Regions from separate parts of the Homo sapiens genome. Here region 1 is linked to region 2. The links come from fine-mapping of genetic effects on gene expression. Tissue or cell type: blood mononuclear cells. Region 2 holds a variant in brackets; the other region holds the start of a gene. All regions are shown on one strand. Distances are between the middles of the regions. Region 1 holds the start of SMYD2 (SET and MYND domain containing 2). Region 2 overlaps SMYD2 (SET and MYND domain containing 2).

What was found. PIP is the estimated chance that this variant, and not a neighbour inherited with it, causes the effect.
Region 1: SMYD2 starts here. The variant in region 2 is fine-mapped to the expression of SMYD2 in blood mononuclear cells (TOPMed, PIP above 0.99). The same link has a PIP of 0.9 or more in whole blood.

Annotation. Positions count from the first base shown.
Region 1 is chr1:214,276,947-214,285,282 of GRCh38, forward strand. SMYD2 (SET and MYND domain containing 2) reads left to right here and starts at 4,213. Exons shown (of 12, transcript NM_020197.3): 1 at 4,213-4,481. The coding sequence starts at 4,309. LOC124904509 (a long non-coding RNA gene) reads right to left here and starts at 4,090. Exons shown (of 2, transcript XR_007066876.1): 1 at 1,768-4,090. RefSeq lists an enhancer at 3,168-3,733 and silencers at 4,013-4,302, 4,323-4,442, 4,473-4,632.
Region 2 is chr1:214,319,131-214,327,466 of GRCh38, forward strand. SMYD2 (SET and MYND domain containing 2) reads left to right here. Exons shown (of 12, transcript NM_020197.3): 6 at 5,511-5,578. Among named protein-coding and RNA genes, the nearest start is that of SMYD2, 42 kb to the left of the region's middle. The variant G/A (reference allele first, on the strand shown) is at 4,607.

The sequences.
Region 1 (8,336 bases), 42 kb before region 2:
ATTTTATTGGATTATTTTATTAGCTCCCTGTGGCTGCTATGACAAATTACCACAAAACAGGTGTCTTAAAACAACAGAAATTTATTCTCTCATAGTTCTAGAGGCCAGAAGTCTGAAATTAGATTAACAGGCTGAAGTGAGGGTATTGGCAAAGCCACACTCCCTCCCGAGGCTCTAGGGGAAAGGTGTTCCTTGCCTCTTCCAGCTCTGGTGGCTGCCAGCATTCCTTAGCCCATCACTGTATCCCTCTCATCACTGCCTCCATAGTCACATTGCTGCCTCCTCTCCTGTCTGTGTCAAATTTCCTTCTGTCCTTCATCAGAAAACTTGCAACTGCACAGAGAACCCACCTGGATGTTCCAGGATACTCTCACTCTCTCAAGATCCTTAAAACACATTTGCAAGACCCTTTGAAGCCATTTATAGATTCCAGGGATTGGAACCTAATATCTATGAGTGCCAACATTCAGCACTTCATAACTGTTTTCATGTATGTTGGTCTTTACACCTTGGTATGACTAGGATCTATCACAGTGTAAGTACATAGTATGTCCTCAATAAGTGACATGTAGACATAGATGCAGAACTATACAGCATCTAGGCCCTTTGCTCACGTTCACTGGGATACCTTCTTTGCTAAGGCTTCATTTCCCTAGGCCAGAGCTATTTCTTTCATGTGCTAATCTGTGGTTGGAAGGATCTTTTACTCATAAATTAGATCAACTTCTAGGTTAGAGAAATTAAGCAAAGGAGTTTTCGTCCTTGTACCACTTCTCCTGAGTTTCAGTGAGGCAAAGTAACCAAAAACACTCCTTTCAAATTCCATACCTCCTACGTTATGGAGCAGAGGGCGTAGGAAAAGTGGATGGGTCCTGGCTGCTCAAAGACTTCACGGAATGTGAGATTACAGAGTGGCAGAGTGACAAGTATGGGCTTCATGAAGAGCGCTGTCATCAGTCTCCCCGGGCTGGTTTATTGCCATTCTTTGGCTGTTTATTTTAAACACAGTTTTCTTAGTAATTTAAGCTCCTAAATTCATGGCTACTGCTTCAGTGACCATTTCCCCATCTCGAGTCATTTAAGTTCATCACAGGGATTTTTCTGAAATGAGGCGGTTTCTTTTCCAGTGTTCTCAAATCACAGTCACCTCCACCCTCAAGAATAAGCCAGCACTCATCTGGAAAGATAATTCGGTAGCTATGTAATTGCTTTTTTCTCAGCTGTGGAAATCTTTCCCAATTAAAGTGGAAAAAGTTACTTGCAATAAAAAAAGTAAACAGGTAGATTACTTTGCACAATTAATCATTGAAACAGTAAACTGTCTACTGTATTGTAATTGTTTACTTCTACGTCAGTCTTTTCATCTTTTTGCTGGTTAGAGCCCCCAGAAATCAGAATGAGATTCCATGACGTTTATTCAACCTTTAAATATTTTTTCCATTCTCTCTGTGTTCCAGGAGTAGTGATAAGAGCTGGTGATGTAAGGGTAACAAAAACAGACTCATTCCCTGCCCTCATGGAGCTTGTACAGTCTGGTGGAGGATGTAAACACTAATCAGGTCATCACACAGACAAATGCAAACTGTCAGTGGTCTCACATGCCAAGGCTGTTTATATACATGTAAACAGTTATGAAGTGCTGAATGTTGGCACCCCAGCCAACCCACAATGCTGCTGGCAGATCAGTCTAAAACACTGGACTCAATGTGCCACCCCTCACTTAAACGCTTTAACTGGCTCTCCCATGGCCTCTGGGGCAGAACTCACCTCTGGAGAAGATGCTCTTCAGCTGTTCCTGCCTCATTTCCTGTCCTCTCTTCCAGATGCTCAGGGGCCCCCAACTACAAGCTCTGTGCTTTCAGGGTCTTCTGTCTTTGTACGCAGTTCTCTCTGCCCAGAAAACTCTTCTCCCCACCTCCACTTGCAAAATCCTGTCCATCCTTCAGGCTCAGCTCTAACGTTACTTGAATGTGATGCCTGTCTTGACTGTTTAGCAGGCTAAAGCTGTCACTCCCTGCCTGTACTACCACAGAACATTTTGTACAAGCCACCATAACTGCACTTATCCCAGTGAACTGTGTTTGTTTGCAGCAAAACACTGTGGTTAGGAACATGGACCTTGAATTCAGACTGACTTGGAAACCAAATTCTGCAATTTATTGTGTGGCCTTGAAAATCATTCCTTCTGGGTCTTAGTTTCCTTCCTAATTTTGGCAATGAGGGGCATAATACCTAACTCATTAGCCTGTTGTAAAGATAAACCAGATAATGTGTTTAATGATGGAGCACGATGCCTGGTCAACAATACTCAATAACTAATGGTATTATCAAACTTGAATGTGCCAAATGCAAGGACCTAGGACTACATTTTGTCCACTTTTTTTTTTTTTTTTTTTTTGAGACAGAGTTTCGCTCTTCTTGCGCAGGCTGGAGTGCAATGGTGCGATTTTGGCTCACAGCAACCTCCACCTCCCAGGTTCAAGCGATTCTCCTGCCTCAGCCTCCCGAGTAGCTGGGATTACAGGCATGCACCACCACACCTGGCTAATTTTGTATTTTTAGTAGAGATGAGGTTTCTCCATGTTGGTCAGGCTGGTCTTGAACTCTCGACCTCAGGTGATCCGCCTACCTCGGCCTCCCAAAGTGCTGGGATTACAGGCGTGAGCCACCACAGCCGGCTGATGTCCATCTTTCTATCCCAGTTGCTGGCCATAGTCAGTCGAAGTTTCTTAAAATGCATAAATGAAAATACTATCATAACTTCCTTTACTTGAAGACGGGTTAGAGGCTTATTTAGTTTGCCACTAATAAGGGCTTTTTTGTTTTCTTTTGAGACAAGGTCCTGCTCTGTCACCCAGGCTGGAGTATAATGGAGTCACCACAGCTCACTGCAACCTTGACTTCCCAGGCTCAAGCTATCCTCCCACCTCAGCACCACTTGAGAGGTGGTTAATTTCCCATAGAGACGGGGTCTTTATGTTGCCCAAGCTGGTCTCCAACTCTCCAATTCCTGGGCTCAAATGATCCTCCCACCTTGGCCTCCCACAGTGTTGGGATTACAGGGCTGAGCCACCACACCCAGCTGATAAAGACATTTTACTGAAATGCCAAAAATTCCACTGATTTTACATCTCCAATCATATTAATCCTTTCCCTTTGCTCAACCAGTCCTGAACTTACACAGGTAACTGTTTGAGGTCCTATTTTGAAGTAGTGGTTTCTGCTAAATGATCTCGTCACAATTTTAGTCTTTACTGCATGTACATCAATTCCAGTCTTTACATAATCATGTGGAACACGGATTATATTTTCCTTTCTCATATGAAAAGTAATAGCGTGCATGTGTATAGGATTTACGTTTCAGGCTTTGTGGGCTTTAAATCCTTTGACTCCTAACCCAAGTGACTTTTCTAAGATCACAGTTCGTGGGTGGTCAAGCATATTAAAACTACTGCAAACTCTAGCGCAGTGTCCTGGACACTGGCCACAGCATCGCATTATCCCCCAACAGCCTAAATTCCTTGAAGGCAAGGTTCTCTCTGGCTTCCTCTGCAACGTTCGCAGCATGCCTCAGAGACTCGGTGAGCTGGGCCGGCCAATGCATTTCCTCTTCCGTCCATGTAATTCCACTAGAGGAGCAGAGGGCAAACTACGTTCCCATTAAAGCCACAAGGTTTAAAAACCTCTAACCTTGGAAAAGCACACTTCAACCCTCTGCACACCAAACTTCTCTACTGTGGTTTCCCCTCTGCCGCTTTCTCCTTGGCGTTCCCCGATCACTGCCTCTAGGGTCTTTACAAGGGACAGCGAACGTAAGGTTTCGGAGCTGGCTTCGCCCCCTTCTATTTACCGGGGGCTGGTCATCCTTCGGGCCAGGCTGACTGTCTAGGGGTGGCCCTCGGATACCTGGTCCCCGCAGGTGACCCCCCTCCCTCCCACCGAGGAGGAGGGCGCGTCCCGCTCGCTCCGTGGAGACGCCGCGGAGGCGCACACGCCTCACGCCTCCTCGCAGAAGCCACAGGGGCTGCGGCTCTTTGTCGCGGCCACACCGGAAACGGCCCGGAGCGCGCGCGGGGCGGCCGCCGAGGGTCGCGGCGCTAGGCGGGGCCGCCGGGCCCGTCCCCCTCCCCGCGGGGGCGCGCGAGGCCCGGGCGGGGCCGCCCTCCCTTCCGGGGAGCGGGGAGCCGCCGCCGCGTCCGCCGGGCGGCTCCCACCCCGCCCCCCGCAGCTCTAGGTGACGCGTCTCCAATAACAGCTCGCCGGGAGCCGCAGCTCGGGCACAGCCGGCGGCCGCGCCCCGCCGCCACCATGAGGGCCGAGGGCCTCGGCGGCCTGGAGCGCTTCTGCAGCCCGGGCAAAGGCCGGGGGCTGCGGGCTCTGCAGCCCTTCCAGGTGGGGGACTTGCTGTTCTCCTGCCCGGCCTATGCCTACGTGCTCACGGTCAACGAGCGGGGCAACCACTGCGAGTACTGCTTCACCAGGTAGGGCGGCGGCGGCGGCGGCGGCGGGCGGGAGCCGGGGGCGCCGAGCGGGAGGCTTGGACGGCGGCGCCAGGAAGTGCGTGCGGCTCGCGGGGTCCTAGCGCCGGCCCTTGGGGCGGGGTGGGGGGCGGGGAGGGGAGGAGGCCCCGCGCTGCGGCCCCGCGCTGCAGCCCCACGCCAGGCGCCACGTGCGAGAGGAAACAGGACCGGTGCCCCGCTGCACGCCCTGCACTGCACGTTTTCAGAGTTGCTCACGCTGGATGCGCAAACCCGGGCGTGCAGGTTCCTGCCCTCAAATGTGGGCTCCGAGCCAGGCTTGTTCCAAGCCTGGGCACTCACTGCCCTCCCGGTGCATTGGCAGCGGAGCCCCAAATTTGGGCAGCCACGGGCTGTCACCTTTAACTTATGCTTCCTGCGGTGTGTTCTGTTACCCACAGTCCAGCCCTGCCTCAGATTGGCCGTTTCTTCCAAGGAATTTAATGACTTAGTATATGTCTTGTAAAGTACGCTTACATGTTAAAGTACGCTTACATGGGTGTTTGGAGGGACGCCAGTGGGCACTGACCACACCCCCTGGATTCTGAGGTGCTGCGACGATGAGTTGCAGTGTCCAGTTTCGGTTTGGGATTAGGAAAACATGGTCGCAGGAAGGGATTGGGCAAGATGTGTGGTTGCTAATGGTATTTAATTGTAAGATACCATATGTATATATGTGTCTGTGTTTGTATATATGATGCATATACATTTGCACACACCAACACATAATTATATCCTCAACTCTTATGAGAGTTTCAGAGCTTAAAGGCACATTAGAAATCACCAATTCAGTCTTGTCTTTCACTTAATGGATGAGAAAACTAAAGCCCAGAGAGAAAGTGGAGTTACCTTTATCCATTCACACCAGTAGTGAAGGGAGTGAAATCTGGCCTTATTCACTTCTGCCTATTTCTCACTGGTTAGGTGCTCAGTAAATTTACTAAGGCAGGAGGCATGGCATTGGGGTTAAGTTTATATCAGGCCTTCCAGTACTCTGAGTAGAGACCATGATTTGCTTTCTTTGAACCTCAGTTTCTTCATCTTTGAAATGGAGATTCCTGGGCTGGATTAAGCTGACCTGCGGTCCTGCAGGGACCTTTTGAGTACAGGTCTCAAGTCCAGCATACTCAATCTCTCAGACCTGTGTGCCTCATTCTACAATAAGACGTAGCAAAAGAAGGGACAAAGGCTAAATATTGTAGTAATCTTGCCCAGACTCCCTGCCAGAACTGTCTTCCGCTTGGGGGGACCTGGAAAGGAACTAGACACGGAATCATGCCGTGGGCAGCTTAAGGGCTGTATGTGATGTGGCTCTTTGAATTGGTGAGCCAAGAGCTAAAGGGTCATGGCACCACTTTGCAACGTTTGAGTGAAGTGAGCATTGGGTTTTCCCAAAGTTAAAAAGGCTGCTGTGACTGGTCCCTTGATCTTCTGAGCCTTGCTGTGGCTCGGAGTCTGCAGCAGCGTGGGTGTCTGCAGTGGCAGGAGCAAAGCAGGTCAGGCAGCACAGAAGGAGCCTCCATCAGGGATCCTGGCAATTCCTGGAAGCCATCGCCTAAGACCATGGATGCCAGGCACATAGTAGGTGCTTACTTTATATGGGTAGTTGCCAGCCCTGGCCCCCAGTGAATGAAAGATCAAATCCCTCTGGATTTAGAAGGGATGAGAAGAACTGAGAGATGCTTCTCTTTAGCTTTAAGTCTCCTAATTGTATCTACTACGCATACCCCCAACCTTAGAACATTAATGGATGGTCAGATGCAAGTTCACAAAGCATTCAGCCTGGATTATTCTGCCATATGTGACAGTTTGCTGCCTCTTTTGTTGTTAAATTTTTCTGATTGACATTTATTAGTGTTACTCACTGTTGCCTTGGGTCCCTCACCAGGGCTGCAACTTGCAATGGGGTGTTATTACAACTTGCAAACCACTTCTCTGTTTGATTTCCCTGACCTTATGTCAATACCCGTAGTTTATTTCCTCTCTCTCCCCAAAGAATTATTTGAAGTCAATTAAAATAATACAAAAGAAATAATATCCATGATACTTATGCAATTAGAAATATCCTTGTACCCTACTTCATGATTTCTATTAAATCTGAATCATTTACTATTAGTGGTTAGGTCATCTGATAGATTCAGCATCAGTTCCTCTGTCAGCAATTTGTATATGACTTAGGACAAATCAGTCTGTCCAGATGTATGAGGGGAACGTGTATTTTCCTCCATAGGGCCTCAAAGTATAGGAGTAGAATTCTGGAAATGTTCATACTTACAGGTCAAAATCTGCTGCCTGCCCCAGCTCCACACACCCAAAAGAAAGCTACCCCTTATCCTTTCTTTTGCCAGAAGTTTAACATAAACAATACTGCTTAAGATAAATGAATGACCCAAGAATTTCCATGTCATACTAATTGTATCAGGATCTAACTTTTTTTGAAGAAAAGAAAAGTGATTTCTTTAGGTAGGAATAAGTATATGCTATAAATTGAGAAATAATGGAAAATGTCTTAAGTCTCAACAGAATGGGATTCTTACGGTCAGGGCAATTCAGACAAAGGTTTGCTTTGGGGAATTTTTAATTTGTATCACATTTCTCAGTCTGGTGGGTGCCATTGGAGAACATGCGTATCTTGCCTGAACTGCTAGAAGGCAGCTCCTAATAATATTATATAAAGTTTTTCCACTTGGAAGCTGTCCCTATCAGACTTCTCAGATACACTTTATACACACATACACACATAAATGCACACATACACATTTTGGCCATTTATCACCATTTTTTGGTGTGGTTTTTTTTTTTTTTTTTTTTTTTGAGACAGAGTTTCGCTCTTGTTGCCCAGGCTGGAGTGCAGTGGCGTGATCTCAGCTCACCACAACCTCCACCTCCCCGGTTCAAGCAATTCCTCTGCCTCAGCCTCCCGAGTAGCTGGGATTACAGGAATGCGTCACCACACCTGGCTAATTTTGTATTTTTAGTAGAGACAGGGTTTCTCCATGTTGGTCAGGCTGGTCTCAAACTCCCGGCCTCCCAAAGTGCTGGGATTACAGGCATGAGCCACTGCGCCGGGCCAAGTATGTTGTATTTTAAACTAAGTTTTAGACTTTTTTTTTTTTTTGAAACAGTCTCGTCTCACTCTGTTGCCCAGGCTGGAGTGCAGTGGCACGATCTTGGCTCACTGCAACCTCCGCCTCCCGGGTTCAAGTGATTTCCGACTAATTTTTGTATTTTTAGTAGAGACAGGGTTTCATCATGTTGGCCAGGCTGGTCTCGAACTCCTGACCTCAAGTGATCCACCCACCTCAGCCTCTCAAAGTGCTAGGATTACAGGCGTGAGCCACCGTGCCTGGCCTAGACATATTTTAACCCCCAATGTGATTTGTCTCAGAAGGAGAGAAATCTGCTTTAACCCAGTGTTCCATCTAAATATTCATTCTATGTGCCATTCTTCAGGTAGGCAGATCTTTTGATCTTTAGTCTCCCTTTTGATCTTTAGTTCTCTTGGCTCATGGGTTATTTAAGGATGAGATTATTGACATTTCTTTGTTTGTTCTGAGTGTAGGGGGAACCAGGAAAGCCCATTTAGCCTCCTTGGAATAGAGCTGTTAGAACCCAGTTTCAGTGAATTTCGGTCATGTCTGGCTTAGATTAGTTGTTTTAAAAATTAAATTGTTTGCCTGAGCCAAACCCTGTGATTAAGGTGTCCTATTTCAGCAGTTATAAAGGCTTTTTTTCCTCATGTCCCCCAGATTTATTCTCTAGCGTATTCATCTTAGCTTTCCTCTTGTTTTATCAAACCGGCAGAATAATTTTTAGTTG
Region 2 (8,336 bases):
CCATAGCCTTGCTCAGTGACCTTGAGCAGATCAAGGTCCCCTCTGCTGGCCCTCATTGATGGGTGGAGTGTAGGAAATTCGCCTCTGCCTCTGCCTCACAAAGAGTTCATGAAAACAAAGGAGTTGTCAGTGCCCTGGTACTCTGGCATACTTTAAGCTCTTTGCAAAGAAAAGACCATTTGAAGTTCCTACATTAAATTTTACTTTTACTCTCTTAAACCTTCTGTTCTATCTGTAGTGTTTTTTCACTCTAACCAAGGCTGCACTGATAGGAGGGCCCTTTGTGATGGCCCGAGGAAGGACAGTCACTGCCGAGAGGAGCCCAAGTGGGTCTAGATGTGGAAGTCTTTCCTGATGGTGGCTAAGAAATCTTGTTTAGAGAAGTCTAGGTTTACCAAAATCAGATCTAAGGAAATCTTAGGCTTCTAAGCAAGAGCAATTTGAAAGTGATTACAGCTTTGGAAACTAGGCCACTGGCAAGGCAAGCCTTGGGCATTGTTAGGACGAGAGAACAAAGGGTGCAGTGGCCATGCCTCGGGGAACACACAACCTTCCTGTTATCGTGAGGGTGGCTCTTCCTGGCCTGACTTACTAGATTGGATTTCTCTCTCATATGCCTTTGCGATGCCCTCTACAAACTGGGCATCTAGTTTAAAGTGACCTTCCCAGGTAGAGAAATATTAGAATTCTGCTCCATGGGAGCAAGAAGCTACATCAGTCTCCGGATGTGTAAAAGAGATGAAGTGGACACCTCCATGGTTTTGTCTTAGAATAGAATAAGCATTACCTAATGTACCCTTTGCCCAGTAACTCTGTTTGCAGGAATCTGTCCTAAGGATATAATCAGAAATCATGGACAGAGATTTACGTACAAATTGTTTATTGTAGGATTCTTTTAAAAGCCAAAGGCAGAAAAGAAAGAAGGAAGGAGGAAAGGAGAGGAGGAAGGGAAGAAGAAAAGGAAAGAGGAAAAGGAAATACTATAAATGGCCAGTAGTGGGAGTTTGGTTACATAAATTATGGCATCTCCATGTGATGGAAGGTTACATAACCTTTATAAGTTACGTTTCACGACTGTCTAAACTTGGGAAATGCTGATGACATAACATTAAGTATCAAAGCAGTATGAAAAGTATGAAAAAAGGGTATAATACGAAAACACACATACATAACGTAAAGATTAAGTGGAAGTTCACAGTTGTCTTCCGAGTTGTGGAAAAATTTAGGCTTTTTACTGGGTGACTTTCTGGATTTTCTACAGTGAGCATGTATAACTTACAAAAAGCATGCTAAGAAGGAGAAAAAGGCAAAAAGCACACACTTTAAAAATTACACACATAAAGAAAGTGGCCAGGCACCATGGCGTGTGTCTGTAGTCCCAGCTACTCAGGAGGCTGAGGTAGGAGGATCACTTGAGCCCAAGAGTTCGAGGCTGCAGTAAGCTGTGATCAAACCACTGCACTTCAGCCTAGGCAACAGAGAGAGACCCTGTCTATAAAGAAAAAAAGTGAGTCATTCATCACTTCTGCCCACTTCAGCTTCCCCCCAACTGTGAACAACTATTAACAATTTATTGAATTCTTTTATAAACTTTATTTAGATATATTTCAGTTATGTGACTGTCATAATCAGAAAAATATGCGATTCCTTGTAGGTGAAAAGGTGGCTTCAAGTTTTGAGTGTTAAGGTAGAAGGAATAAAAGACCTTTCTAATTTTCATATTATCCTGGGTTTAAATTGTACTTACCTAAGTATCCTGAGACAATAGATTTGGCTGACAATGGGAAGTGAGGAATCAACTTCTCTTACATTTTCTGAAAAAATGAATACATAATTTTTTCTGGATTAGTTTATATATGAGAAAGCAGAGAGATGAAATAAACATAAAGTATCTACTTTTCTGGCTATGGAAAAAGATAGCTTTTCCTCTAACACAGTGATGCATGCTTATAGGACTTCTCAATGTTGATGCCGTAGTTACAGGACCATATTTTCATAACCAAAAATCAAGTGACTCCATCTCACAAGTAGAAGTATATTTGTGGTGAAAGTGACTGACTCTTTGAAATATGGACTGACTCAGAAAATTCAGAACATTTATATACCTTAAAAAATGTATATATATATACACACACATATGCATACACACATACACGTAACTATAGAGAATTAATTCCTTTATTGACTTTATCAAATAAGTATACATTTTGAGATTACATGTGAATACAAATAAGTATACATTTTGAGATTATTTGTGTTCACACAAATACACACACATATAATTTTTTCATATGTAAATTTGAAAGGGGACATTTACTATCCCCAAAGAAAACTCCAAAGCAGAAATGCAAAGTGCTGCTGCAGCCACATGCCACCGGTCCCACCTCTCAGCCAGCAGCTACGTGTCTGCTGTTCCAGCCCCTGAGCCCTTTCCACCGTCTGGTCCATGGGAGGCTGTTGTGGGTTACCTCGAGACCTGGCAGCAGCTGGCAGCAGAAGGTGACCACACATCTTTGACAGCATCGAGGTGTGTTCTAATCACTGGGAACATATGCATGATTGGGAAGTGTATTTTTGGTGTGCAGCCTACATCTAGTCTAAATGCTAATTATGAGAATAGCTTTTGCAAGGTTCTTACACCTGATTTGACTTCAGAAAAAAGACTGTGGACCATGCATGTTTCTTAACATGCAAGTTCACTTTTCTTCTCTAGGGATATTTCAGAAGGGAAGGAAAGCTGGCAGGAAAATTGCTATGTAAGTAGGCTTAAACACCATCACAAAAGGAACAGTAATGACTCTTAGGCTCATGGGAGCCTTAGCTCTTGAAGAAACACAAGCAGTCTTCCACAGTAAGAGGAGCCGGGAAGGGAATAAAGGGACTGATGGTCATAAAGTGATCGAGTCTGACTGGTCTAAGTGGGCTTGCTGCAGAGGAGGGACTGAAAAAGCAGAGAAACAAGAATCTCATCCCCAAAGTAGTCAGAAGCTGTCTGTCCCTAGATCAGTTTTGAAAAGTGTTGCAAATTTTTCTGATTCATTGTTTCATTCTGAAAACATTTGTACCAGAAACTGCTGAGGCGTGGTAGTACTCAGTCTGAGATGATACATAGATCATTTAGAACCCAGTATAATACCGGATACAGGTCATGCTCCGGTAATTTTGTTGAATGAATGAAAACTTTAATTTACTCTTACCTAATGTTGGTTGATGGTCATTGGTTAATGGTTGTTAGTCAATGTCTGTGTGACAGAATTGGTCAGGGTACTTAGAGTTGGCACAAAAAATAATATGCCAAGTCTTCTACTTACACATGCCCAACCCCTCAGGATTTTAAAGCCTATGTATTATTTTACTAATCCACAGTACCCTCCCATTTTCTGCTTTTTGTGTTGAATTGTAAATACTGCAAGTCAAACCCATCATATAGCTCTTATTGCTTTGTATACCAAGATTTTCAAGCCCCTGCGTTTGGCCCTTTAATGTTAAGCAAAATAACCACATTAGCATTTAGTAGATCTGACCAATTTTAGAAGGAACATGGTATAGTGTGAAGAAACCAGAGTTGCTGTTCAGAATGCCTAGTCTGAATTCTGGCTCCTGTTCTGCCACTTATCATTTACATATCCTTGAGCAAGTCACTTAATCATTGAACCTTCCTGAGCCTCAATTTTCACATCTGTAAAATGAGTTGCTGTAGTAATGCTATAGTGATATTGCGGATTTATGGGATGGTAAATCTGAAGTACCTAGCACAGTGCCTGGCCCAGAGTGAGTGCTCAGAGGATGCTAGTTTTACAAAGCCCATCTGTTGGCCTGAATTGTAACAGTGCAGTGTCCCCAAGTGCAGAAGAGAGTGGGGTGGAATCGTTCAGTGTGAGTGCCTCACGGACAGAGACTTCATAGCAGCGTGGGACAAGCAGGGGTCTCAGCCTTTGTCACCAAGTATCTTTGTGACTGTGGACAAATCATTGTTCCTCTCTGACTTCAGTTTCGTCCTCTAAAAAGTAGAGTCTTAGTTTTCTTCCAGTGCTGAAATTTTAGAGACATGAAGATCACCTACCGAATTGTCTCCTAATAGTCTGATTTTCTTTGAGGCCACAAATTTTCAGCCTGTTTGTCTTTCTGTTTGTTTTTCTGTGCATGGTGCCCAGCATGTAAGGGCTCCCAGTACATATCTGTGGAAAGAATGAGTTTATAGAACAGTACATAAGTTAGGCATGTATAGTCCTCATTTTCAGCCTGCTTGTTCTAAGTTAGGCTTCCAGAATGGTGAAAGTTGCCCTTGGTATTTTTCTATGCAACATTTCTTTTTTTTTGAGATGGAGTCTCACACTGTCGTCCAGGCTGGAGTGCAGTGGTGTAATCTCGGCTTACTGCAACCTCCACCTCCCAGGTTCAAGTGATCTTCCTGCCTCAGCCTCCCGAGTAGATGGAACAGCTGGGATTACAGGTGCATGCCACCAGATCCAGCTAATTTTTGTATTTTTAGTAGAGACAGGGTTTTACCATGTTGGCCAGACTGGTCTTGAACTCCTGACCTCAGGTGATCTGCCCACCTTGGACTCCCAAAGTGCTGGGATTACAGGCGTGAGCCAGCGGGCCC[G/A]TACAACGTTTCTTTTAAAGGGTGAGAAGGTGGCCTGTAGGTGATTTGGCTGAGACTTGAAAGGCAAGGTCTCAGTGCCTTAGCTTTAAGCCCTCAATCCCTCTGCCTCCCTAACAGAGAGAGGGATAGCAGTTAGATTAGATGAATAAGGGCTTCATATTTACCACCTCACCTTATGAGATGAGCATTGGATTGATTCCTTTTTTTTGAGACAGAGTTTCGCTGTTGTTGCCCAGGCTGGAGTGCAATGGCACAATCTTGGCTTACTGCAGCCTCCGCCTCCTGGGTTCAAATGATTCTCCTGCCTCAGCCTCCCAAGTAGCTGGGATTACAGGCATGCGCCACCACGCCTGGATAATTTTGTATTTGTATTTTTTTTTAGTAGAGATGGGGTTTCTCCATGTTGGTCAGGCTGGTTTCGAACTCCCGACCTCAGGTGATCTGCCCGCCTCAGCTTCCTAAAGTGCTGAGATTACAGGCGTGAGCTACCACGCCCAGCCAGATTGATTCTTTTCTTTAAAGACACAGTGATTCAGTGATAGGCTTAAGATCATACAACAAAGCTGTAGCAGAATTGAGATTAGACTCCAGGTATCTTAACTCCCATGCAAGTGTGCAAACGTCAGTCCTCAGAGTCTTGGGGGTCTTTGGCGTGCCTGGACCACTGTATTTAGATGGTAGGTAGGCTACACTAAGGGATGCATCACAATTCTGCTTGTTTGTTTATGCATGGAACTGATAAGTAAATTTTGTTTGAACGATAACATGGGCAAAAGAAAGGGTTTAAAACCACTACACCAAAACATCTTCCTAATTTGTTAAAAGTCAAAATTTAAAAAAATGATCTCTACCCAGAAAGAAGCTCCAGCTCATTTTTTTCCTTTCTCCCTTTTTCTTGCTGCAGGTTAACTGTAATGGCTTCACAATTGAAGATGAAGAACTTTCTCATTTGGGATCAGCGATATTTCCTGAGTAGGCTGTGTTTGACTTCATTTCTTTCCTTTTTACTTACTTAACACTAATTTGATTTTTTTTTCATTTTTAAATAACCCACCTAACTGCATGTGGCAGACATGAAACTCAAAGTGAATTAAAACAGCTTTTTAATCTGCCAGATTTCAAAATATTTCCCCTACACTTAAGGATCCAAAGGTAGTAGTTAAGAGAACAGTTGCTTGTTAAGTCCTGCTAGGCAGAGAGCTGTTATTAAAGAATATTTTATAGCGCGCATAGAAGGAACAGCTCATGCCCTGCTGAGAAATTTGCTTTCTGCCTATCTGTGGTTCTGGAAATCTTTCCATTTCTTATGCTCAAAGTGAAACATTAATTGCCAACCAAGAATTGGCCACAAGCTTGAGTACAGACTATATGAGCTTCTTCTCCATCTGTCCTTTTTGATAAATACCAGTACAGAAACAGCACAATTTGGAGGGAGAATATGCTGAAGTAGTGGGCCGGATAAAAATTTCAAAGAACTGTAGGATTTTCTCTGGATTTGAAGAATACTTGAGTAATTCAGCAAAGGCTAGCCAGTTGACAAATGGAGATCTTTATAGATCTGACTTTAATGGATTGCCAAGAATGATTTTGCCTTTGTCTGTCTCATGGAGTGAGTATTTCCAAAATGCTTCAGTCCCTGAAATCAAACCCTTGCTTCACAGATAGAGCCAAGGAATTCATCATGCATCCCCCCAGCCTCCAAATTAATCCACATTGTAGATAAGTTCTATCCAGAGGGAGGTTGCTTAACATATACTGCAGGGGCCTTTGCCTGTAGGTTGCCACATAGGTAGGAAACCCTTAATACTCATGCATTTGCCCTGAGTGATGTGCCTGCCCTTAGCTATGTGCGTCTCTGCCAGACGCTGTGCGTTGTGTAGGTCAGAAAGAGAAGAATCCGTACAGTCTGTGTCTCGTGAGCAGCTGTCACAGGTTTACTTGAACCAGAGAGACTAAAAAGTTTGTTCATGTAATATTTGTCCTTGGGGCCAAAATGGCATCATCTGCAGTTGGAATTCTGGAAGTGAGGAAAGAAGCTTTTTTTTTTTTTTTTTTTTTTTAACTTTGGCCCCTGGGAAAAGGCAGGAGAAAAAGAGGGCATTGGACCCACTGAAGAAGGCGTGTATTGACACCTTTATAACTGAAATGAACTATGGAATGTCTCTGTTCTTAATATCTTAAAAGACTAAAAGATTAAGAGTAAGGTGCTGCCGGGCACGCCTTACAGGTGTGGTGGCTCACACCTATAATCCCAGCACTTTGGGAGGCCGAAGCGGGCAGATCACGAGGTCAGGAGTTGGAGACCAGCCTGACCAACATGGTGAAACCCCGTCTCTACTAAAAATACAAAAATTAGCTGGGCATGGTGGCGCACACCTGTAATCCCAGCTACTCAGGAGGCTGAGGCAGCAGAATCACTTGAACCCGGGAGGTGGAGGTTGCAGTGAGCTGAGATCGCGCCACTGCACTCCAGCCTGGACAACAAACCGAGACTCCATCTCAAAAAAAAAAAAAAAAAAAGAGTGAGGTGCTTTGAGGATTCTCACCTGTCAGTGGTTGCCAACAGAATTATGATACCAAGAACATGAATTGTTTTAGGGTCTTTGACTTAGTGCATTTCCCCCACCTTCATTAAAGAGATACCCGAGTCTGCCTTCAGCTATTTAATACTTCCGCAAGATGGTTTTAGAAATGTGCTTTTATTTTAATACAACTACCCTTCGATGCATTTGTTTATTTGATTTCCTAGGACCTGATTCCTTGGGCATCACTTTCCAGGAAGCCAAGTGGGCCTTGGTGCAGTGCAGAGGTGGCCCTCCCCGAGGTCAAGACCAGGAAGCTGCTACCTGTTTATCTCAGGCACCAGGCTAACCACATACTTTGCTTAGGCCTTTAGCAGCCAGGAGGTGGGGGAGTGCACTTGGCCATAGGCCATAGCCAGCCTGGGGCAGTTCATCCTCATCAGGCTTCGAAACCCCTTTCCCTTTTTGTATTCTCGGAGCAAGCAGGAGAGGGGCTGTGGTCTCTGGAGGGTCAGGGAGGTGACATTGGCCACCAGAGCAATGACACACATGGCTGTGAGTGCCCGTAGGAGCATGAGCCCCAGTTTCTGGGCAGTTTTAATTGGGGGAAAAAATCCCTTTGGGCTGAAATCATATCAGCATTGTGATTTCAAAGGCAGCATTTTCAGAGATCAAGCACTTTTTCCCTGTAGTTTAGAAATTTCTGTTCTCAGAACTTTGACCTTCATATAATCAGAAAGCTCAAAGCACCTCGCATAGGCGAATCTCTCTCTCTCCTTCTCGCTGTCCCTGAAAAGCAGACAGTGAGCAGCAGGAGCAGTAATGTCCCAATTTTCCAGATGAGGAAATTGAGGTGCAGAGAAACTCAGACGGGTGTCTCCGGGTCTCTCAGGGGATCACACACCCTTCCTCCCTTAGGAAGCTGGCATTTCTCAACATCTGAAAAAAACGTGAGAAATAATCCACTAATACAAAAAGCTGCTTGAAAGCGACAACGCACCTGTGTTTGACAGTGTATAGTGAAGTAGCAATTAGCTGTGGGTATTGGGTTCTGAGAGCTGCATTCTATCAGGGAGGAATATTTGTGGCATTTGTTGTTTTTGCTGTTGTGTGTTTTTTGGTTTTGGCTTAGATAGTACTTGAATTGTGGATTTCAGTTTTTAATATGGTGAAAGTGTGAGATGGTAGATAGGATTATCAGTGCATGC